Homo sapiens: one gene and its partners. The protein of the gene in region 6 purifies or fractionates together with the protein of the main gene of each other region. This does not show direct contact. Each region holds a gene or a part of one and is shown on either strand. Other genes may lie near its edges.

The links.
Region 1: the proteins of NAPG (region 6) and UFSP2 purify together in Homo sapiens (affinity purification with mass spectrometry; 2 studies listed by BioGRID and IntAct, with this or other methods). This does not show direct contact.
Region 2: the proteins of NAPG (region 6) and STX5 purify together in Homo sapiens (affinity purification with mass spectrometry; one large-scale study listed by BioGRID and IntAct). This does not show direct contact.
Region 3: the proteins of NAPG (region 6) and ITM2C purify together in Homo sapiens (co-immunoprecipitation; one large-scale study listed by IntAct). This does not show direct contact.
Region 4: the proteins of NAPG (region 6) and PRKACB purify together in Homo sapiens (affinity purification with mass spectrometry; 3 studies listed by BioGRID and IntAct, with this or other methods). This does not show direct contact.
Region 5: the proteins of NAPG (region 6) and STX18 purify together in Homo sapiens (co-immunoprecipitation; 2 studies listed by BioGRID and IntAct, with this or other methods). This does not show direct contact.
Region 7: the proteins of NAPG (region 6) and ODR4 purify together in Homo sapiens (affinity purification with mass spectrometry; one large-scale study listed by BioGRID and IntAct). This does not show direct contact.

The regions. Positions count from the first base shown.
Region 1 is NC_000004.12:185,408,965-185,412,464, reverse strand, and holds part of UFSP2 (ufm1-specific protease 2), read left to right. Parts: intron 1-51; exon of another isoform or gene 52-3,500. UniProt on the Homo sapiens protein: Thiol-dependent isopeptidase that specifically cleaves UFM1, a ubiquitin-like modifier protein, from conjugated proteins, such as CD274/PD-L1, CYB5R3, DDRGK1, MRE11, RPL26/uL24, TRIP4 and RPL26/uL24.
Region 2 is NC_000011.10:62,822,052-62,825,551, forward strand, and holds part of STX5 (syntaxin-5), read right to left. Parts: intron 3,489-3,500; coding exon 3,372-3,488; intron 3,289-3,371; coding exon 3,232-3,288; intron 3,067-3,231; coding exon 2,985-3,066; intron 2,515-2,984; coding exon 2,408-2,514; intron 2,237-2,407; coding exon 2,115-2,236; intron 1-2,114. UniProt on the Homo sapiens protein: Mediates endoplasmic reticulum to Golgi transport.
Region 3 is NC_000002.12:230,877,345-230,879,748, reverse strand, and holds the end of ITM2C (integral membrane protein 2C), read right to left. Parts: intron 2,350-2,404; coding exon 2,199-2,349; intron 1,742-2,198; coding exon 1,650-1,741; 3' UTR 501-1,649; downstream 1-500. UniProt on the Homo sapiens protein: Negative regulator of amyloid-beta peptide production. May inhibit the processing of APP by blocking its access to alpha- and beta-secretase.
Region 4 is NC_000001.11:84,231,271-84,234,770, forward strand, and holds part of PRKACB (cAMP-dependent protein kinase catalytic subunit beta), read left to right. Parts: intron 1-3,500. UniProt on the Homo sapiens protein: Mediates cAMP-dependent signaling triggered by receptor binding to GPCRs.
Region 5 is NC_000004.12:4,455,049-4,458,548, forward strand, and holds part of STX18 (syntaxin-18), read right to left. Parts: intron 2,453-3,500; coding exon 2,375-2,452; intron 2,210-2,374; coding exon 2,143-2,209; intron 1-2,142. UniProt on the Homo sapiens protein: Syntaxin that may be involved in targeting and fusion of Golgi-derived retrograde transport vesicles with the ER.
Region 6 is NC_000018.10:10,536,027-10,539,526, reverse strand, and holds part of NAPG (gamma-soluble NSF attachment protein), read right to left. Parts: intron 595-3,500; exon of another isoform or gene 556-594; coding exon of another isoform or gene 553-555; intron 1-552. UniProt on the Homo sapiens protein: Required for vesicular transport between the endoplasmic reticulum and the Golgi apparatus.
Region 7 is NC_000001.11:186,382,338-186,385,837, forward strand, and holds part of ODR4 (protein odr-4 homolog), read left to right. Parts: intron 1-684; coding exon 685-819; intron 820-3,500. UniProt on the Homo sapiens protein: May play a role in the trafficking of a subset of G-protein coupled receptors.

The DNA of each region.
Region 1 (3,500 bases), on a different chromosome or scaffold from region 6:
TTTGAGGAAATCTTAAGAATTAAAAAAATGCATATACGATACAGTACGTACCCTAGATGAGTTAGGGGCCCACTTGTGGTCTTGGTCATTAGAGTGTACTCAGGGCAGCAGATCATCTGCAAAAGCTGTGGGCCAACCAGCTTCCATAGAAAGTTCCTCACAAAAAGAATAGTTCCTTAGAAGAACCTGGACACACAGAAGGTATTGAATGAGTACTGATTGCTTTTTGACAATAAAATAGGTTCATTATATCTGTATTACAAGGTCGTAAGAAAAATATATACTTTACATATTTATCATGTAATATTTGATATGTACATATAACATATGCAAATTGTAAAGCACAGTGGGGAAATGAATACCAGGGAGCTCCTCCCTAATTTAAGAAGCAAAACTTTACCAGTCTGTGCTCTTTCCCTACCCACTCCTCTGCCTCCTCGACACAGTTCCAGGAGGAACTATTATGGGTTTTGTGTTCATCATTTCCTTCCTTTTTAAAAAGTAGTTTCAGCGTATATGTTACATATCAATCTCAGCAATGTCGCTTTTAGTATTGCATAGTTCTGAGTTTTATAAATATGGTATCATTCTGTACGTAGTCTCTGCAGCTTGCTTTTTCACTCAATATTACATATCAAACATCTCTGGTATTTTGTCTAACCATAGTTAATTATCTTTATGATTTTTTCCAAGTTTTTTTGCTGTTTAGACAATGAACATTCCTATACCTCTCGATACATATGTGCAACAGTTGTTAACATTTTGCTATATCTGCTTCATTTCTCCCTCTTTTTTCCCCCTCTGAACCATTTCAAGGAAAATTATAGATATATTATTTACCCTTAAATACTTTGGCACAAATCTCTCAACAATATAGATGTGCATTCATGAAATAAACTCGGTTTGGTTATGACTCATTATTTTTTATTCCCCTCTGGATTCCATTTGCTAATATTTTACGATTTTTGCATCTATGTTCGTGAATGATACTGGCTTATAATTTTCTTCTCTCATACTGTTCTTATTTTGTTTTTTTATTAGTGATATACTGGTTTACTAAATTAGTTAGGTTAATGTTCCTTTTTTAGTTTTTTAGAGAAGTTTATATAAGAGTGGTATGATCTTTCCTTGGTCATTTGGTAAAACTTGCCTGTAAAACAATTTTGGCGTAGCATTTTCTTTGTGAGAAGATTTTTAGTAACCAATTTAGTTTTGGTAACAGCTTTAGGACTTTTTGATTTTTATAAGTTATTTACCTAGGTTTTAATATATCTTGTAGTCATAATATTTTCTTTTTCATTCTTCATATCATTTTTATGCCTTGTGTCTTTTAAAAAAAAAAAAACTTTTGGCTTTGTTGGCCCCCTCTATTATAACTTCTGTATTTGATTTTATTAATTTTTGCTCTTTACTTTCTTTTTTTTTGCTCTTTCTTTGATTTATTGTCTTTCTTCTAACTTCTTAAGTTGGACATGTTAGCTTATTGCTAATATTTCTTTCTTTCTTTTTTTTTTTTTTTGAGATGGAGTCTTGCTCTGTTGCCCAGGCTGGAGTGCAGTGGCACAATCTTGGCTCACTGCAACCTCCGCCTCCTGGGTTCCAGCGATTATCCTCCCTCAGCCTCCCAAGTAGCTGGGATTACAGGAGGGTGCTACCACGCCTAGCTCATTTTTGTATTTTTTAGTAGAGATGGGGTTTCACCGTATTGGCCAGGCTGGTCTCAAACTCCTGACCTCGTGATCTGCCTGCCTCAGCCTCCCAAAGTGCTGGGATTACAGGCGTGAGCCACTGCGCCCGGCCTAATCTTTCTTTTTTTTGAGATGGAGTCTTGCTCGGTTGCCCAGGCTAGAGTGCAGTGGCATGATCTCAGCTCACTGCAACCTCTGCCTCCCTGGTTCAGGCAATTCTCCTGCCTCAGCCTCCCCAGTAGCTAGGATTACTGGCAATAGCCATACGCCTGGCTAATTTTTGTATTTTTAGTAGAGACAGGGTTTCATCATGCTGGCCAGGCTGGTCTCGAACTCCTGACTTTAGGTGATCTACCCACTCGGCCTCCCAAAGTGCTGGGATTACAGGCATGAGCCACCGTGCCTGGACAGCTTTCTTATTTTCTAATGTAAGCTTTTAAATTTCAAGCAAAGCACTGCTTTTAGTGTATCTTATAGGTTTAATTTGAAGGATTTTAGTTTTGTTCACTTCTAAGTATTTTTATATTTTTCTATTATGGTTTTTCTTTTGTCCATGTATTATTTAGAAGTGTTTGTTAATGTCCAAATATGTCAGAATTTATTTTTCTTTTTTGCTTTTTTTTTCTTCTTGTTTTAACTGGTTTCTGACTCTTGCCTCCTGGTCAGAAAGAATTCTAAGTGAAACTAACTCTGAAATTTATTGAAACTTGTATTTGTTCCCTAAAAAATAATAACATATTTGATGGCTTAAAACTACAAAAATGTATTGTCTCAGTTCTGGAGTTCTGAAAGTAGTATCACTGGGCTGACATCACAATGTCAGCAGGACCACCTTCCCTCCATAGGCTCTTGGGGAGAATCCATTCCTTAATCTGATGGCTGCCAGCATCCTTTGGTTTGTGGCCCCATCATTCCGATCTCTGCCTCCTCAGTCACATTACCTTCTCCTCCTATGCCCCTCTCTTTTAAGAATATATGTGATTGCATTTAGGGCACACTAGGATCCAGGATAACCTCCCCATCTTAAGATCCTTAATCACGTCTATGAATACCTTTGCTTTCCTTTTTTCTTTTACTTTTTGGCACAGAGGGTGCATTCACAAGTTCCAGGGATTAGGACATACATACCTTTTGGGAGCCACTTTTCAGCCTGTCACAATGGTCAAGTTATAAATTTTTCTATCTGTGCTTGGGCAGAATATATATTCTCTAATTGTTGGGTGAGGGTTGGTTCTATCTTGTCCCTATCTCCTCTCACTTAATTTTTTAAAAATATCATCAGTTTGGAGCCAGGCATGGTGGTGTGCAACTGTAATCCCAGCTACTCAGGAGGCTGAGGCAGGAGGATCACTTGAGCCTAGAAGTTCAAGACCAACCTGAGCAACATAGTGTGACCCAATCTCAAAAAAATAAAAACAAAAACCCAGTTCTTTAATAAAAAAAGACATATACATTCTTAGCACTATAAGTAAGAATTTATATGATATTAGTAATTTATTTATCTTTATTTTTTGACCCTTAACTTAGCGTCATCAAATAACATACTTGGGCTGTAATCATAGCAGGTTTATAAATTTAGACACATTCTTCCTGTGTCCCATGATATGGACCCTTCATTTGTTTGTTCATTCCTTTATTCCTTCCTTCATTCATTCAGCATTTATTCAGCAGCATTTATATTAACCGTGTGCCAGGCGTGTTGTAGAAGCTTGGGCCCAAAAATGGATAAGACACAGTGTATGTACTCACTGAGCTCACATATTAGTGTAAGTAGGCAGATATTTTTTAAATGATAAGTAATGTATCATTTAA
Region 2 (3,500 bases), on a different chromosome or scaffold from region 6:
TGCATAAATAAATAAAGTTAAATGTATTTGGCCAGTTGTGATGGCTCACACCTGTAATCCCGGCACTTTGGGAGGCCAAGGTGGACAGGTTACTGGAGGCCAGGAGTCCAAGACCAGCCTGGCCAATGTGGCAAAACTCTGTCTCTACTAAAAATACAAAAAGTAGCCGGGCATGGCGGTGCACACCTGTGGTCCCAGGTACTCGGGAGACTGAGGCATGAGAATCACTTGAACCTAGGAGGTGGAGGTTGCAGTGAGCCAAGATCATGCCACTGCACTCCAGCCTGGGCGACACAGCAAGGCTCTGTCTCAAACACAGAAAAACTAACCCCTGCAATGGCTCCCTATGTCACTCAGAGTAAAAGCTAAAGCCTACCAATGGTCCCAAGAGGTCTCACAGTTCCCCTCTGACCACACCTTGTACAACTCTCTTCCTCATTGATCCCAGCTGCAGTAGTCTCTGCTGTCCTTTAACTCATCAAACATATTGTCACCTGCGGGCCTTTGCCAGGGTCTATGTAGCTAATTTCCTCACCTTCTCCCAAGTGTGATGCCACCTTCTTAATAGGGCCTACCTCCCTCCAAACCTGGCACTCCTGATTAGTTTATCCTGTGTTGACTATCTTTTTTTTTTTTTTTGGCATTTACGACCTTTTTTTTTTTTAACATACTATTTATTATGACTTTTTCACATCTATCTCCCTATTAGGATACACGTTCCACAAGGGCAAGGATTTTGTCTCTTTTGTCCACTGCTATATTCCCATAACTGACTGACTGAATGCTAAGCACCACAGAGGAGGAGCAGATAAAAACTCTTGTAGTAGCAGGAGGCACCAGAGGAACAGAGAGGCCAGCCCATTGTTGGGCCTCTGCCTACATCCCTCCAGTACACCCTGTACTTCTCTATCCCTGTTCATTACTTTCTAGCCACGCAGGCCTTCTTGATTCTTGCTATGGTGAGACTGTCCCATCACAAGGCTTTGCTCTAGCTGTCTCCTCGGCCTAGAACACTCTCTGTTCTTTGCCTGGTTGGATCCCTCTTGTCATTCAAGTCTCTGCTTAAATGTCATGTCTTCAGAGCAGCATTCCCTACCACACAATCTGATATACCTACTTAGTCACTTTCTTTTTTTTTTTTGAGATGGGGTCTTGCTCTGTCACTCAGACTGGAGCGCAGTGGTTCCATCATGGCTCACTGCAGCCTCAACCTCCCATGCTTAAGTCATCCTCCCGCCTCAGCCTCCCGAGTAGCTGGAACCACAGGCACACGCAACCATGTCCAGCTAATTTTTTTATTTTTGTAGAGATGGGGTTTCACCATGTTGCCCAGGCTGGTCTTGAACTCCTGAGTTCAACTGACTGTGTGGGCCTCCCAAAGTGCTGGAATTACAGGTGTAAGCCACCGTACCCATCCATTACTTTCTTAACACATCATCCTATTTTAACTCTGTATACAGCCTTTATTACTCCCTGAAATTTTGTTGGTCAATTTTTTATTTTTATTTTTTTGACACAGAATCTGGCTCTGTCACCCAGGCTGGAGTGCAGTGGCACGATCTTGGCTCACTGCAACCTCTGCCTCCCAGGCTCAAGCCATCCTCCCACCTCAGCCTCTCGAGTAGCTGGGACTACAGGCCCATGCCACCATGCCCAGCTAGTTTTTGTATTTTTTTGTAGAGACAGGGTCTTGCTTTGTTGCCCAAACTGGTCTTGAATTCCTGAACTCAAGCGATCTGCATTGCTCGGCCTCCCAAAGTGCTGCCTATGGGATTACAGGTGTGAGTCACTGTGCCAGCCTTGTCAGTTCTTTTCCACAGCTGTCCTCATCTGCCCTATCAAATTCCATACACTTACACATGCTACAAAGCAGCTCCAGACAGACTTTACTGTTCTACTTGCCACTGTATCTCCCGCACCTGGAACAGTGCCTCACATGAACAGGTGCTCAATAAAAACTTGTTGGGTGGATGGAAGCAGGTGAACTGGGTCCCATGGGTGGGCAGAATTCACTCTATCTTCCAAAAGGCATCAAGCAGTCCCTGGGGACTTTAAGATGCCAATCCACGGGGAAGAGAAAGCTCCTCTGTTTGGGGCGAGAGAGTGTATCTCACCTCTGAATGGTTTCCTCCTGTTCCTTAACCATGTGTGCCAACTGCTGAAAGATGGAGCCCAACTCAACAATTGTCGACTCAATGTTCTGCATGGTGTCTGCCCGACTCTGGATGTAGGAATCCTTCAGGAGAGGGAGAGAGCACATGAGCACCAACAGCTTCTTCAGGGTCAGACCTGCATTTTTACAACCCTCCCAGCTTGCCATTCTGCCCATGGCACACTCCAAACACTCTCTCGGGAACCACAGAGGATAATGGAGAAGCTGATTCTACCTAGTTCAGAGCCTGGGTACCTGCTCGTCAATGAGCTGCAGCTGCTGGCTGGTCCGAGAGTCCATCATGTCGATGGCGACATCCTTGGAGGCATGGGACTCTGCCCCCAGAACCACAGCACCACCGCCTGGGGGAGAAAACAGGATGTGGCACACCTTAACAGTTAAAAGCAGGTTCAAAGCCCACATGCTCTGGGTTTGAATCCCAGCTCTAGCACTTACTAGCCTTGTGACCCTGGACAGGTCATTTAACCTCTCTGAGCCTCAGTTTCCTCACCTGTAAAATGGGGGATAATAATAGTTGCTTTCTCAAAGGGTGGTTGTGAAAATTAAATGAGAGAATGTGAATAAAGTGTACGAAAAAAAATTAGAAATTATCATTATTCTGAATATAACTGAATTCACCCCAACAGTGAGAATGTGGGAGTCTAAATGTGGATCACGAATCTCAACCATCTGGTTTGGCCTCTGAGAGATAAAGCCTAGAAAATTCCTTGACCTTCCACTCTCCTACCCAACCCGTGCCTTTAGAGGATGCCATCACAACCAGAGTAAGTAACCTTACCTCCCAGGGCTCCCCGTTTTACCTGTGACTTACCCAGGTGGTTAGGGGCAAGGGGCAGGGCTGACACAGGTGCCCGGGAGAACTGCTCTCTCCGGCTCCTCTGCTGCTTCAGGTTCTGGGGTTGGGGAAAAACGCAAAGGACCTGAAGCCACTAGAAAGCAGGCATGTTAAAGAGACTCCCACCATTGGCCCCATGACCCTGTAGAACTTGTCCCTTCTTCATTTCCCTCTTGGATCTTTACTCCCATATTCCTACCCCTCCTACGCAGATTGTTCTCACCTCTGTCCTCACTTCTAAAACCGATTTGAAGTCATTGGACATAGAAGCCAGTTTCGACTAGAAGAAAAGGAGAGAGGGTCAACCAAAGAAGGCTCCACATTCTTCCTCTTTGCCTCCCTCCCTTCCTCCCCAGGTCCCACCTGCAAGGAGACCACAATGGTGTTGGAGTGGGTCTGCAGGTGCCGGCCACTCTGGCTGCCCTTGGCTCTCACGAAATCCTGGAGCTGAGCAATTTGTTTGTTGAGGCTATTGATGTCCTGGTAAAAGAG
Region 3 (2,404 bases), on a different chromosome or scaffold from region 6:
TGGGGTCCACCTAGACATGGCTCTGGCCAGCTCTCCTGCCGCTTCCAGAATTCTCTGGAGAATGTGACCCTGTGATTATCACACCAAACCTCACTTCAGATCCTCCAGGAATGGTTACAAATTGTCCAGACGTGGTGGAGAATAGGACACCGCCCTTGTGCTTAAGGACATGCAATAATGATGTCATCTGCCAGGTAGAACATTACAGGGTGGTTTACAGGCACTTAAAGCAGCACGACCTTGGGCGAGTCGGTAAGCTCTCCCAGCCCTGTTCCCCTCCTCACCCGGAAAGTGTGAACTCTACCTGGCTCAGATCCAGGGTGCTACGAAGGGGATATCCTACACTCCTTGGCTGAATCCAGGATGCCCAGCTCTTTAGGGGCCAGATGTCAAGGTCTGCAGGCTTCTCCCTGCCTGCTGCTCCCGAGGTCCAGCTCCTCGACCCTGCCCGGAGCACCCCTCCTACACCCATCTCCCCTCCAGCCACACTCAAGTCAAGGTCAGAAGTAAAAGATTTTTATTGTTCTATAGACACTTCTGAAAAGAGATCTAATTGAGAAAATATACAAAGCATTTAAGAGTTTCATCCCCAGAGACTGACTGAAGGCGTTACAGCCCTCCTCTCCAAGGCTCAGGGCTGAGAACGGTTAGCATATCGAATGATCAGTAAAAACATGCAAAAGTGAGAAGGAAAGGGAAAAAGGTGCATTCCCCTAAGCTGAGGGGGATGGAATTTCAGAACAGAGGAGGCAGGGTGGACAAGTACCAGGTGGCTCTCCCTTTCCCTCTGTGTTATCTTTCAAAACAGTTCCAAGCTTGGAGAAAGCAATGAGCTCCACCTACTCAGCAGAACCCACGGCTCGTCCCCCGTGGACGTGACTGAGCAGTGACCTTGCCTGCCCCGTTCCTCAGCCGCCCATCCCACTGCCTTGACTGAGGGGACCCTGCTTGTGCTCCTGGGGGGCAGGACTGGGGGTCCTAGCTCCTTGCTTCTTTGGTTCCACTCAGAGAACAGTTGTGCTTGACGGACTCATCCCCACTCCCCAAACTCCAAGCTCCTGCTGGTGGGCTGAAGGCACTGACAGAGTCCCTGGGACACCCCCAGGTAGCCACCTTCTCTTGTGCTCTGGTGGGTCCCTCCCTGGGCACATCGTCCCATCCTCAGCTCAAGCCCCAGGTCTAGGAATAGGGACAGTGAAGAAAGTGTACCCTCCAAGAAAAAGCTTCTGAGGACTTTTCTAATTGTGCAGATACTTCTGAAGCCCATGCCGCCCCGCCCCCACAGCCCCATCCCCTTGCCCAGGGCCTCACATGCCCGGCTCCCCCAACCGGTCCTTCCCCTTGGGCTGCCGGTGCAGCTGTGGGCCCAGGCTTTGGCAGGCCCAGCTTCAAGACAGTGGGACACAGAAAACACTTTGCAGCATCGCCTCTCCCTCCGCCACACCCAGGTCAGCAGAGATGGGCCCCCCACCGAGAGATCACAGCTCTGGTACAGGGAGGTGGGCAGGGTTGGAGAGGAATGGAGAGACATGTCACCTCTATAGAAACGCGTCCAAAGTACAAGCTAAGCAGGGGGAAGGAGGAGGGCCAGAGAGCAGCCGGAAAGAAGAAAAGAGGAACACGGCAGGGGGTTCTGGGGGAGGAGGGCCTCACACCACCCCGCAGATGAGCGTCTCCACCACGAAGGTGTTCTCGAAGTGGCGGATGGCATTGCAGTTCTTGGCCCCACGCTTGTTGATCCCTGGGAGGAAAAAGAAAAACCCCAGTGAGCCCTGCATCCTGGCTGAGTCACAAAGACCACCAGCCTCAGCCTGAGCCACAGGAGGGCCAGGAAGTGACACCATTCACCCAGATTCACCCAAAGAGCACAGTGAGAAATGGGGAGAGCTCGAAAGCTGGAGTCAGCCTGCCCATGTCTGCCACCTCCCTGCTGTGTGACCTCCAGGGTGTTAACCTCTCTGCACCTGTTTCCTCATCTTTAAAATGGGCAGCAAAAATAATAATGAGGATGAGAATGACTTACACTCTTAAGAGGTCATAAAGAGCACACAGCATTGCCCGGCACACGGAAGTGCTCTGCTAATGCTAGCTGTTATTGCTGCTGCTATCTGAGCTCTCTGACAGCTGGGCTAGGCGTGAAGATAACTGTGGTCTGGGGCACGGGACAGGGGCTACTGTGGGTGAAGCCAGCCACTCACGCCTCCGCGTTGCCCGGCGCCGGAGCCGGTAGGTGTCTTTCCCGTTGCACAGGTGGTAGATGAAGGACCCCAGGGCCTCCTTGTCACTGACATGCTCCGTGACCACCATCTCCTCCTGGATGATGTACGTCTGCGGCAGGTAGGTCCCCCTCTGCAAAACAAGGTGGCCGCCACAGTGAGTCGGCCCCTCAGGCTTTCGTCCAACC
Region 4 (3,500 bases), on a different chromosome or scaffold from region 6:
CCACTTGATCATGGTGGATAAGCTTTTGGATGTGCTGCTGGATTTGGTTTGCCAGTATTTTATTGAGGATTTTTGCATCAATGTTCATCAAGGATATTGGACTAAAATTCTCTTTTTTGGTTGTGTCTCTGCCTGGCTTTGGTATCAGGATGATGCTGGCCTCATAAAATGAGTTAGGGAGGATTCCCTCTTTTTCTATTGATTGGAATAGTTTCAGAAGGAATGGTACCAATTCATCCTTGTACCTCTGGTAGAATTCGGCTGTGAATCCATCTGGTCCTGGACTCTTTTTGGTTGGTAAGCTATTGATTATTGCCACAATTTCAGATCCTGTTATTGGTCTATTCAGAGATTCAACTTCTTCCTGGTTTAGTCTTCAGAGAGTGTATGTGTCGAGGAATTTATCCATTTCTTCTAGATTTTCTAGTTTATTTGCGTAGAGGTGTTTGTAGTATTCTCTGATGGTAGTTTGTATTTCTGTGGGATTGGTGGTGATATCCCCTTTATCATTTTTTATTGCGTCTATTTGATTCTTCTCTCTTTTTTCTTTATTAGTCTTGCTAGCAGTCTATCAATTTTGTTGATCCTTTCAAAAAACCAGCTCCTGGATTCATTAATTTTTTGAAGGGTTTTTTGTGTCTCTATTTCCTTCAGTTCTGCTCTGATTTTAGTTATTTCTTGCCTTCTGCTAGCTTTTGAATGTGTTTGCTCTTGCTTTTCTAGTTCTTTTAATTGTGATGTTAGGGTGTCAATTTTGGATCTTTCCTGCTTTCTCTTGTGGGCATTTAGTGCCATAAATTTCCCTCCACACACTGCTTTGAATGTGTCCCAGAGATTCTGGTATGTTGTGTGTTTGCTCTCGTTGGTTTCAAAGAACATCTTTATTTCTGCCTTCATTTCGTTATGTACCCAGTAGTCATTCAGGAGCAGGTTGTTCAGTTTCCATGTAGTTGAGCGGTTTTGAGTGAGATTCTTAATCCTGAGTTCTAGTTTGATTGCACTGTGGTCTGAGAGATAGTTTGTTATAATTTCTGTTCTTTTACATTTGCTGAGGAGAGCTTTACTTCCAACTCTGTGGTCAATATTGGAATAGGTGTGGTGTGGTGCTGAAAAAAATGTATATTCTGTTGATTTGGGGTAGAGAGTTCTGTAGATGTCTATTAGGTCCACTTGGTGCAGAGCTGAGTTCAATTCCTTGTTGACTTTCTGTCTCATTGATCTGTCTAATGTTGACAGTGGGGTGTTAAAGTCTCCCATTATTAATGTGTGGGAGTCTAAGTCTTTTTGTAGGTCACTCAGGACTTGCTTTATGAATCTGGGTGCTCCTGTATTGGGTGCATATATATTTAGGATAGTTAGCTCTTCTTGTTGAATTGATCCCTTTACCATTATGTAATGGCCTTTTTTGACTCTTTTGATCTTTGTTGGTTTAAAGTCTGTTTTATCAGAGACTAGGATTGCAACCCCTGCCTTTTTTTGTTTTCCATTTGCTTGGTAGATCTTCCTCCATCCTTTTATTTTGAGCCTATGTGTGTCTCTGCATGTGAGATGGGTTTCCTGAATACAGCATACTGATGGGTCTTGACTCTTTATCCAATTTGCCAAGTCTGTGTCTTTTAATTGGAGAATTTAGTCCATTTACATTTAAAGTTAATATTGTTATGTGTGAATTTGATCCTGTCATTATGATGTTAGCTTGTTATTTTGCTCGTTAGTTGATGCAGTTTCTTCATAGTCTCGATGGTCTTTACATTTTGGCATGATTTTGCAGCAACTGGTACCGGTTGTTCCTTTCCATGTTTAGCACTTCCTTCAGGAGCTCTTTTAGGGCAGGCCTGGTGGTGACAAAGTCTCTCAACATTTGCTTGTCTGTAAAGTATTTTATTTCTCCTTCACTTATGAAGCTTAGTTTGGCTGGATATGAGATTCTGGGTTGAAAATTCTCTTCTTTAAGAATGTTGAATATTGGCACCCACTCTCTTCTGGCTTGTAGAGTTTCTGCCGAGAGATCCGCTGTTAGTCTGATGGGCTTCCCTTTGAGGGTAACCTGACCTTTCTCTCTGGCTGCCCTTAACATTTTTTCCTTCATTTCAACTTTGGTGAATCTGACAATTATGTGTCTTGGAGTTGCTCTTCTCGAGGAGTATCTTTGTGGCGTTCTCTGTATTTCCTGAATCTGAATGTTGGCCTGCCTTGCTAGATTGGGGAAGTTCTCCTGGATAATATCCTGCAGAGTGTTTTCCAACTTGGTTCCATTCTCCCCATCACTTTCAGGTACACCAATCAGACGTAGATTTGGTCTTTTCACATAGTCCCATATTTCTTGGAGGCTTTGCTCGTTTCTTTTTATTCTTTTTTCTCTAAACTTCCCTTCTCGCTTCATTTCATTCATTTCATCTTCCATTGCTGATACCCTTTCTTCCAGTTGATCGCATCGGCTCCTGAGGCTTCTGCATTCTTCACGTAGTTCTCGAGCCTTGGTTTTCAGCTCCATCAGCTCCTTTAAGCACTTCTCTGTATTGGTTATTCTAGTTATACATTCTTCTAAATTTTTTTCAAAGTTTTCAACTTCTTTGCCTTTGGTTTGAATGTCCTCCCGTAGCTCAGAGTAATTTGATCGTCTGAAGCCTTCTTCTCTCAGCTCGTCAAAGTCATTCTCCGTCCAGCTTTGTTCCGTTGCTGGTGAGGAACTGCGTTCCTTTGGAGGAGGAGAGGCGCTCTGCTTTTTAGAGTTTCCAGTTTTTCTGCTCTGTTTTTTCCCCATCTTTGTGGTTTTATCTACTTTTGGTCTTTGATGATGGTGATGTACAGATGGGTTTTTGGTGTGGATGTCCTTTCTGTTTGTTAGTTTTCCTTCTAACAGACAGGACCCTCAGCTGCAGGTCTGTTGGAGTACCTGGCCCTATGAGGTGTCAGTGTTCCCCTGCTGGGGGGTGCCTCCCAGTTAGGCTGCTCAGGGGTCAGGGGTCAGGGACCCACTTGAGGAAGCAGTCTGCCCGTTCTCAGATCTCCAGCTGTGTGCTGGGAGAACCACTGCTCTCTTCAAAGCTGTCAGACAGGGACATTTAAGTCTGCAGAGGTTACTGCTGTCTTTTTGTTTGTCTGTGCCCTGCCCCCAGAGGTGGAGCTTACAGAGGCAGGCAGGCCTCCTTGAGCTGTGGTGGGCTCCACCCAGTTCGAGCTTCCCAGCTGCTTTGTTTACCTAAGCAAGCCTGGGCAATGGCGGGCGCCCCTCCCCCAGCCTCACTGCCACCTTGCAGTTTGATCTCAGACTGCTGTGCTAGCAATCAGCGAGACTCCGTGGGCGTAGGTCCCTCCAAGCCAGGTGCAGGATATAATCTCCTGGTGCGCCGTTTTTTAAGCCCGTGGGAAAAGCGCAGTATTCGGGTGGGAGTGACCTGATTTTCCAGGTGCCGTCTGTCACCCCTTTCTTTGACTAGGAAAGGGAACTCCCTGACCCCTTGCGCTTCCTGAGTGAGGCAATGCCTTGCCCTGCTTCG
Region 5 (3,500 bases), on a different chromosome or scaffold from region 6:
AAAGTTAAGCAACCTGCTCAAAGTCACACAGTTTGAAAGTGGCAGAGCCAGGATTCAAACACAGGCTGTCTGGTTGCAGAGTCTGGCTCTTAGGCATTATACTATGCCACTTGATCGTACCATTTCCCCCTCTGAGCTTACTACCGATTTCACTAATTATGACATATCCTGATTAAGCTGACTAATTTTTCATGTTTAATAGCAACCCAGCCTGCTTCTAAGCTCTCTAAGCACAAAGACTTAATCTATGGCTTCTCTCAAGCTACCCTCTCAGTGCATTATATAATAGTAGCTGTTGCTGACAGATAACTTGACTGATCTGCTTACTATCTTCCACAAATGCTTCTATTTGTTGGCATTAACAATTTCACATCTGTTTCACAAATGTGCAGAAAAGGGTTCATGTAGTAGGCCTGAGGCTGCTATCCTTAGAAAGGCCTGCTTGCAAGGTTAACCCTTGCCTGGCATCTGAGAAGTTGGACTTTGGCAGAGTTCATGCCATCCTAATTGATAAAAACAGCTCGCCGTGCCTGAACTGTTTTGCAAAACATGCGGTTTGAATGCAGTTCAGTGCTGAGCACCTGCTTTCCTCCTGGGAGTCTAGAGTTTCGGTAGATGCCAGGTGTGAGGTGCCTATGTGACCAGCCCCTAACAGAATCCTTGGGCAATGAGTTACTAATGAGCTTCCCTGGTAGACAACACTTCACGTGTTGTCATAGGTCACATGCTGTGTGACTCCACTGGGAGAGTACTCTTAGAAGCTCATGCCTGGTTTCCTCTGGACTTTTGTCCCACATGCCTTTTCCTTTGCTGTTTTGCTTCGTATCCTTTCAGTGTGACAAATCATAGCCAGGAGCAGGACTGTATGTTGAGTCCCATGAGACCTCTTAGTGAATCCTAGAACCAGAGAGTAGTGCTGGGGACCCCTGACACAGTAAGAATTTAAAAAATGTGGGCCAGACATGGTGGCTCACGCCTGTAGTCCAGCACTTTGGGAGGCAGGGGGATTGCCTGAGCCCAGGAGTTTGACAGCAGCCTGGGCAACATAGTGACATCCCACCCTTATAAAATAAAATTAAAAAATAGGCAGACATGGTAGCACATGCCTGTAATCCCAGCTACTCGGAAGGCTAAAGTGGGAGGATTGTTTGAGCCCAGGAGGTCGTGCCACTGCACTCCATCCTGGGAGACAGGGTGAGACCCTGTCTCAAAAACAAAAAAAACAAAAAAAAACAAAAAAGAAAATGTGTCCCCAAACAGTTATGTGATGTTATCTTCTGAAAGAACATCCTAAAACCTTTCTAAAGCTAGTCTAGAAATGGTCCAGGTTTGGATACTTGCTCACTGATGTATTCCATCTCCAAGACTGGCTGAGTTGCAGCGGGAACGACTGTGAGGACACAGCTCTTGCATTCCAGATGCTCATGTGAGCCCAGAGGGGAAACCAGGCAGGCGCCATGGAAAATACAGGAGCCTGGCCCTCCTGCTTCCTGTGGCCTTGGATGAGTCATTTACCCTGCTGGAGCGTCAGCGTCCTTACCTGCTGACAGGGCTCCTAATAGTGCCTGCATGGGACAGGTAGTGGGGTTGGAGGGAGGTGTGCACTCAGAGCATGTGGCATCGAGCAAGTCTGTCACAGGTGACCTGAGGACAGCCTTGTGGTGGCCTGCTTGTTGTGCCCTCGCTCTTCTCTCAGGAATACACTTTCAGGGACGACAAGAAGGGGTATGGGGGTCAAAGAGATTGAGGTAAAATGGCTCAAGATGTGCCAGCCTCATCGGGTTAAGAGACAAAATGGGCAAGAGCACAGATTTTGGACCAACAGCCTAGGCTCAAACCCCAGCTATGCTACCTGTGGGACTGTGGGATCTAGGGTGAGTGGCCAAGCCTCCTGAGCCTCAACTTCCTCATTTGTAAAATGAGGGAGGAAACAGTACCTGCCTCATGGGGGTTTGTTGTGGGCCAATAAAGTGGCTGGCATGCTGCCTGGCACACAGTGAGTGCCCGGTAGCGCCAGCTATGGCATTTTGCGAAGAAGTTCAAACACGGTACATTGCATAGGGTAAGTGCTCTACAAACTTTAACTGCTATTATTAGTAGTACTATTATTAATTAAGAAACACCAATGAAAGCAATACTTACAATCTTTTCTTATCCACCACTCTTTTAACTCGGATGGCTCTCTGTTCTGAGTAAAGTTTACATACTCCTGTTGCAGAAGAAAATACCAGAAGAGAGACTGCTTAAAACAGCTTCTCAGGCAAAGCCATCATTAAATATAATGAGATACTACAGTCTTCAGCTAGCAAAGCTAAATTCTGCATCACATCTATTGTGAAATGTTACATTTGACCTTTAAAAGAAAATGAAATACTTTTCAAGTAATCTTCAATGAAATCCAAAACAGCGGTCCTGTGCTCCTTCACTTGCTGGGAATGTATCTCCTTGTGAGCTGTAACAGAAAAAGACAATGTTCAGGCCTTCGCACTCAATTATCCTAAAGAGCAATTCATCAGCTTCCTCACAACACTTTCTTTATTGAGAGTATTTTTTAAAACACAGCTATAAAACAAGTCTTGTGCCAAGTGACACTACATTTTTAAAACAGTAAGATGTATCAGGCTTCGCAAGAGTGAAAGATTAAACCTGTAGAAAATCTATAGTCAAATAATTTATGGTTTATCAGAACACTTAAGGATAGTATTTGACGCAGCCACTTCTTGAGTGCTGACCCCATCTGTGTTAACAGCATCCAATGCTCAAGCTGACCTTCAGCGAACATGTTTAAACAACTGAAATCACACACTCCTCCCTGCTTGAACCTGTGCTGCTTTTCAGCCTGTAGTGCCCCATCCTCTCCCCTTGGCCACTCACATTCTAAGGGTCCCTTAGACAATGAGTCAAACTTTCTGTCTCCAGGAAACCTATGACTCCTAGCCACAAAGATGCCTTTCTCCTGGGAACTACCACACAGAAGTGTGCTAAAAGGCCTTACCAGACCTAAAGTCTGTGCCACTGGTTTTGGTAAGATAGTGACCACTGACTGAGAGACTGAGTGCCTACTGCGTGCAGGTACTCTGCTAGCACTTTACATATGTACTGCTAGTAATTACAATAGCAATTCCGAGTTTCCTGATTTTTACACGTGAAGAAACTAAGGTTCAGAGGCAATAAATAGCCCAAGGTTAGATGGTTTCATATGTAAATGTAGGTTTTGTTAAATATTCCTGTGCATTTTTTAGGTCTCTCAATGAATGTATATGCCCTTAAGGGTAGAGGGCATGATTTCTGCCTTACTATAGGGCTGCTTAACCCAAGATTTGTGTGGGGGACTCAGGAGCTCTGTGAAATTGCATATAGAATTTTGTGTATGTACATTTTTCTGGCAAGAATGCCTATTGCTTCCATCAGAGTCTCCAAGTGGTCCGTCAGCATTCTAATAAAAACCTCCCCAACAAAAGTCTGTGTTGTGAGCACAACAGCATCTGGCAGCTTTGAAC
Region 6 (3,500 bases):
TTATTCCCCAGCCCCCGACAGGCCCAGGAGTGTGATGTTCCCCTCCCTGTGTCCATGTGTCCTTGTGGTTCAATTCCCACGTATGAGTGAGAACATGCGGTGTTTGGTTTTCTGTTCCTGTGTTTGTTAGTTTGCCAAGAATGATGGCTTCCAGCTTCATCCATGTCCCTGCAAAGGACATGATCTCATTCTTTTTTACAGCTGCATAGTATTCCATGGTGTATATGTACCACATTTTCTTTATCCAGTCTATCACTGATGGGCATTTGGGTTGGTTCCATGTCTTTGCTATTGTAAATGGTGCTACAATAAACATACGTGTTTACTGTATAAACATACGTTTCTATAGAATGATTTATGTTCCTTTGGGCATATGCCCAGTAATGGGATTGCTGGGTCAAATGGTATTTCTGGTTCTAGATCCTTGAGGAATCCCCACACTGTCTTCCACAACGGTTGAACTAATTTACACTCCCACCAACAGTATAAAAACTTTCCTATTTCTCCACAGCCTGGCCAGCATCTATTGTTTCCTGACTTCTTAATCATCACCATTCTGACTGGCGTGAGATCTCATTGTGGTTTTGATTTGCATTTCTCTAATGATCAATGATGATGAGCTGTTTTTCATGTTTCTTGGCTGTATGTCTTCTTTTTCTACAAGGAACTTAAATTTACAAGAAAAAAAAAACCCAATCAAAAAGTGGGCAAAGGATATGAAATACAATTATTTTATCCCTAATTCATGAAAGTAAATGACTCAAATACATTGTATAGCAATAAAGATATTTAAAATGAAATGCTTCACATGATTACTCTCCCAATCAAGCTTCATTAAACCCAATCAAAAAGGTACCAGGTAATTTCTACACAGAGTTCATCATCACTTCACAGACCTTTGGGAAATCTATGAAAATAGAAAAAACCAAAAACCTTGCTCTTTACTGTTTTCTAAGCACTTCTTATTCTTTAAACATTTACCAAGTCCCTACTACATACAAGACCTATGCCAAGGATCACAAACTGGCAGCCCAATGACTCTATCTCACTTCCAAGTGTGTTTTGCTTGATCCATGCAGTATTTTTAAATTAGATACTTTCATGAAAATTGTTTTATGGCTTTCTTCAAAAAAATATCAAAAGCTACGGCATCAGCAGGCTTGCATCCCTGTATGGCAACAGGCTGGGGCTGGGCAGCACTGTCCCGCCACATGAGCATGCACCTCCTGGCGCTTCTCCCCGCTCTTCACTTCCAAATGCCCTCCACGTCCCAGCTGCTCATTCATTTTAGTTATTCCTCTACACCCTGAGTTCATCTGAGTTTGCAACCCTCTTCCATGACTAATAAATTCTGTATCTTACTATTAATCTACACATCTCAGGATCATGCAGTCCTAATGTCTAATATCTCCAAATCAAACATTTTAAAAATAAACTTAAAAAAAAACACCGTTTAAAAGCTAGTTATAAAGTTTACATAAGCAACTTATTTAGTGTTGACTTGCTGTATCTTAAGGTAGGCTCCACACTGACATCTCATGGGTGGTTTACAAATCTGCCTATTCAGTCCCTTGCTAAGTTGACAAATTCATTAGGATACCCTTAACAAAACTGGTCTCATTTTCGCCAACCCCAAAACATAACTTTATTATTTAGCTATGGAAACTAACAATAACACAGACTGAAAGACACTGTATGAAATAAGACTGCTATCATTCACTCAAGCAGAATGAAATGCTAATGCATTTCCAAACCTCAGTGAAAAAATAAAAACAATACTTTTTTTGTTATAAAACCAAAAGTCAATGAAAGAATCCGAGTCTACAATATCTGCTGAAAAATATCTGAATGAACAGGGGAGGTAAACCTAACAAAATCTCTCTCAGACACATTAGTCCTGAGGGTCATTTTGGCTTTTAAAGAATACAACTGAACCTTGAACAGCAGAGATTTAAACTGTGCTGGTCCAATTATACGCAGACTGTCTTGCTCCTCTGCCACCTGAGACAGCAAAACCAACCCCTCTTCTTCCTCCTCCTCCTCTTCCTCCTCCTCAGCCCAAACGTGAAGACTATGATGAGGATGAAGAGCCCTATGATGCTCTACTTCCACTTAAAGAACACTAAATATATTTTCTCTTCCTTACGATTTTCTTAATATTTTCTTTTCTCTAGCTTTATTCTAAGAATACAGTATAAAACATATTCCATACAACATACAACATATGTACTAACTGACTGTTTATATTATTTATAAGACTTCCAGTCAGTAGTAGGGTAGTGGCTCACGCCTATAATCCCAGCACTTTGGGAGGTTGAGGCAGAAGTATCACTTGAGCCCAGGAGTTTGAGCCCAGCCTGGGAAAAACAGCGAGAACCAGTCTCTACCAAAAAAATTAAAAAATTAGCAGGGCATGGTGACATGCACCTATAGTCCCAGCTACTCAGGAGGCTGAGGTGGGAGGATCGCCTGAGCCCAGGAGGTTGAGGCTGCAGTAAGCCATGATTGTGCCACTGCAATCCAGCCTGGGCAACAGAGCAAGATCCTGTCTCAAAAAAAAAAAACAAAAACAGGCTATTAGTAAAGTTTTTGGGGAGTAAAAAGTTATATGTAGAGTTTCAACTGCACAAGGGGTTGGCATCCCAACCCTTGGGTAGTTCAAGGGTCAACTGTATTTCCTCCCCAAATATACCTACCCACTAATTACATATATAATGTGAATCTACAACATAAAAGCATTTGGGAGGATAAAAAAACCACAGGAACTATTCGTCATGAGTTTTACCCAGTAGATAGAGCAAAAAATACATTAGAAGGCAGTAAAAATGGCATCCGAGTCCTATTTGTTGTTTAAAAATTAGCAACTACATCTTCCTGTTTTTGCGTAAAATCAAGTGAGGCTGTGAGTAAGAGGTCCAACCACAATATTGATACTTCTCCATAAAAAATGATGAGCTGCCTACTTGAAAGTTATACCCTCCACCATAAATATGCCTATTTTCAATGGCTGTGTGCCAGTGGAGCAAACAGGATATGAAATCACAGCAGTCATCAAGTGACAGAACCAAAGGTTGATCCAACAAGTTTCTGTGGCTTCCCTTGTGCATATGTCTACAAAATGGCACTCCCCAAGCCTTTCTGGTGAATCAGTGTGAAGGTTTGTATGACAAATTGGTAGAAATTTTAGCCCACAGAATTGTGGACCACGTAGCTCAGGGGTCCTGTGCTCCCAACAGTGTCCAAAGGCATTTAATTTAAATATAAGACAATGCCAGAAAGCATTTTCCTTCATCTGTTTCCCTATCCACTAAGTTAATTTTCTTTCATTCAAAGTAGTGCCTTTCCAACCCTCAAATTAAATAGATACTTGAGCAATGGAAATGATGCCTGAATAATAACTTTTGATGAAGATTCAAGTCTTAGTACAGCTGTTGTAATATAAACTGAGGCTGTGAGAATTAGAGTGTTTGAGCATTTCTTAAACAGGCATGAAGTACACT
Region 7 (3,500 bases), on a different chromosome or scaffold from region 6:
TTGCTTGAGCCCAGGAGTGCAAGGTTGCAGTGAGCTATGATCACACCACTGCACTCCAGCCTGGGCATTAGAGCAAGACCCTGTCTCTAAATAAATAAATAAATACACACACACACAAAGAACAAAAAACAAAACAAAACAAAAAACTTGAGGAACATAGAATCTGTATCACTTTAAATTGTGTCCCAAATCCCCTTTGTTATTCTGTGGAAATGTATGTGGAAGTTCCCTACTGTCATCATTTCAATTAAAATAAGATACAAAAGGTCACTTGTTGTTTCATTTTACTAATATTTTCCGATCTGTTCATTTATAACTTATAAAACAAATATAACTAGAAAACTGAATAAGCATATTACTTTTTAGTTAATGTAATTCATTCACTCATCCAGTAAACCATTTTTAGGGACCACTCCATGATTTACATTTGAGTTGTCCAAATAAATAAGAAGCTGATATTAAATACATTAAAAGATAAACAACATGTGAGGGAAAGATTGTAAGGCCATCCTTGAAAATTAGCTTCCCTTTAGCTTCCATTATAATGTGGGTATTAATGATTTAACCTGTTACAAATATTACTCAGTTTTTGCATGTCATAAAAGCTAAGGAATTTAGGTATCACTCTAATTAGATTGAGGAATCAGATATCACTCTAACAAGCTTTTTAATTTGTTGTTGAAGTGTTCGTCACAAAAGGATTATGTGATTCTTGCCACTAGAACGCCACCCAAAGAGGAGCAAAGTGAGAACCTCAAACATCCCAAAGCTAAGTTGGATAACTTGGATGAAGAATGGGCCACAGAACATGCCTGCCAGGTTATCTTATTTTTTTGTTTATATGTTTAAGTTTTATTTCAAAAAAGAGCTAGAATCAAGAAGATTTAGTGAATGAGTAGAGAGAAGAGACATAGGGAGAAAGTAGCTAAAGATGACTGAGATTTTTAGTCTGGGTGTCTAGGAGGATACTGTTGGCATTACACGAGGAAGAAACAGATTTGGGATGGGTGAGTGGGAATAATGACTAAATTAATTCACTTACAAGTATTTATTGAATGAATTATATATCATCAAATAAATAATGTTAGAATAAGGTAAAAATAGAATTATTTCCTTTTCTGGGGTTGGGGGTGAGGGGAGGGAACTTAGAGGACAGGTCAATAGGTGCAGCAAGCCACCATGGCACACGTAAACCTATGTGACAGACTTGCACATTCTGCGTTTTTGTTTGTTTGTTTTAAGAAAAAGAATTTTCTTTAATAAATAAAAGATTTATTTCCTTTTCCAATCAACTTTAAATCTTTAAATCTTTTAAACTCAAACGTGTTTCTGTGTATGTAGATATATATATATATATATATGGACATATATTTGTGTCTGTGTATGTGTTTGATTATGGAGCAGTGTGTAGTTATATTTAAAAAAAAAATAAAATCTTGCCTGTAATCCCAGCACTTTGGGAGGCCAAGGTGGGTGGATCACCTGAGGTCAGGAGTTCAAGACCAGCCTGGCCAACATGGTGAAACCCCGTCTCTAGTAAAAATATGAAAAACTAGCCAGGTGTGGTGGCAGGTGCCTGTAATCCCAGCTACTTGGGAGGCTGAGGCAGGAGAATTGCTTGAACCTGGGAGGCGGAGGTTGCAATGAGCCAAGATCACACCATTGCACTCCAGACTGGGCGACAAAGCGAGACTCTGTCTCAACAAAACAAAACGAAGAAATCCAGTATTTAATTATTATTGTTTTAGTCTGTTTGGGTGGCTATTAAGGAATACCTAAGACTGAGTAATTTATAAAGAAAAAAAGGCCTGTTTGGCTCATGATTCTGCTGGCTGCAAGATTGAGCATCTGGTCAAAGCCTCAGGCTGCTTCTGTTCATGTCAGAAGGCAGATTGGAGCTGGTGTGTAAAGATCACTGGGCCAGAGAGGAAGCAAGGGGTTGGGAGGTGCTAGGCTTTTTTTTTTAACAACCAGCTCTCGTAGGAACAAATATAGCGAGAACTCATTCACTGCTCTGAGGATGGAACCAAGCCATTAATGAGGGATCTGCCCCATGACCCAAACACCTTCCATTAGGCCCCACTTGGGTTCACATTTCAACATGGTGTTTAAGGGGACAAACATGGCAACTATCTTCTAAAGAAAATATTAAGTAATGTAAAGTTAAATTCCCAATGGTTTGTAAATAACTTTCTACTCTAATTTTGCTTTTGGTCTCTCATAAAATTGTATATGACACACACACACACACACACACACACACACACAGAATATTAATGAATTTATATAGTAAATTAGCTTAACCTTTTACCTCTAGAAAGAAAAGGTTAATTTTACTTTTTCCCCTTTCTTGCTCTCACCTCCATCTCCTAAAAAATGGTTACTTTTTTGTGTTGGTGATTTTGAAAAGATATGCAGGCTCCTTATGCTAAATATGAAAACTTTATTTGTCAGAATTGTGCTACTATAGTAAATAGAATTTATTAAATCAGAGGAAAACACCGAAAGACATAGTGCAAGTAGATTAAGGATTAGAGCATGGTACCTAATTTTCTAAGACTGTACTCTGATTGATTGCTTGTACATTAAGTAATCAAAAGCTAACCAAAACACTCTAATCTCTGAGTGTAGATGATAGAAAAAAATCCATGTGGTATTAAGAACTAGCCACAATCATGTGAAGGGAAATACAGATATGGAGATATCATGGTAGTATGTATCAAAAACCTTAAAAATATGTATAACTTCTTAAACCAGTTATCCACCTCAAGGGATTTGTCCTAAACAAATAATTCTATGAATGCAGAAAGATGTACTAGGATTTTTAATCAATATTATTTTAAGGTAAAATTAGATATAGCAAAGATGCCCAGTATCAGTAAGTGGGCTTAAAAATTTGAGGTTAATCTATGCAATAGAAAATAATGGATTTTCAAGTCAGACTCCCTCTGTTCAAATTCCAGATCTAGTATGCTGCTAAAAATAGGGATACAGAGGTAGAATTACTTATTCCCTTAAGGAGCTCCCTGACCAACTAGTAGGGTTCACAGATAACTATGATATAAGACTATGTGATAAAATCCATGGGAAAACTACACCAAAGCCCTGTCGGAGTTCAGAGATGAAAAGATCAGAGAAGGCAGCTTCCTCAAGCTGCCTTTGAAGTATCCAGTAGGGTTGAGACATGCAGAAGTATAAGAAAAAGTCAGTTTCGGCCTAGGGAACACCCTGAGTAAAGACACATAGTTAGAAAGCCTAGGATGTGTATGGAAAACAGTTTATAGCCTCATTTGACACTACTTTTCAAGTAGTTTTTGACAAATATTTGAATTACTTGAGGAAAAGTAGTGTCAAATGAGGGTATAAACATCATTGACCAGATCCTAGAAAGTCTGAAATATCAATCTAAAATAAAACTTCATTTTATTTAGCTGATGGTGGGACGCCATTGAAAAAATATTTCAGTCTTTGATCTCCTGAGAAAAGGATTTATTTATTGA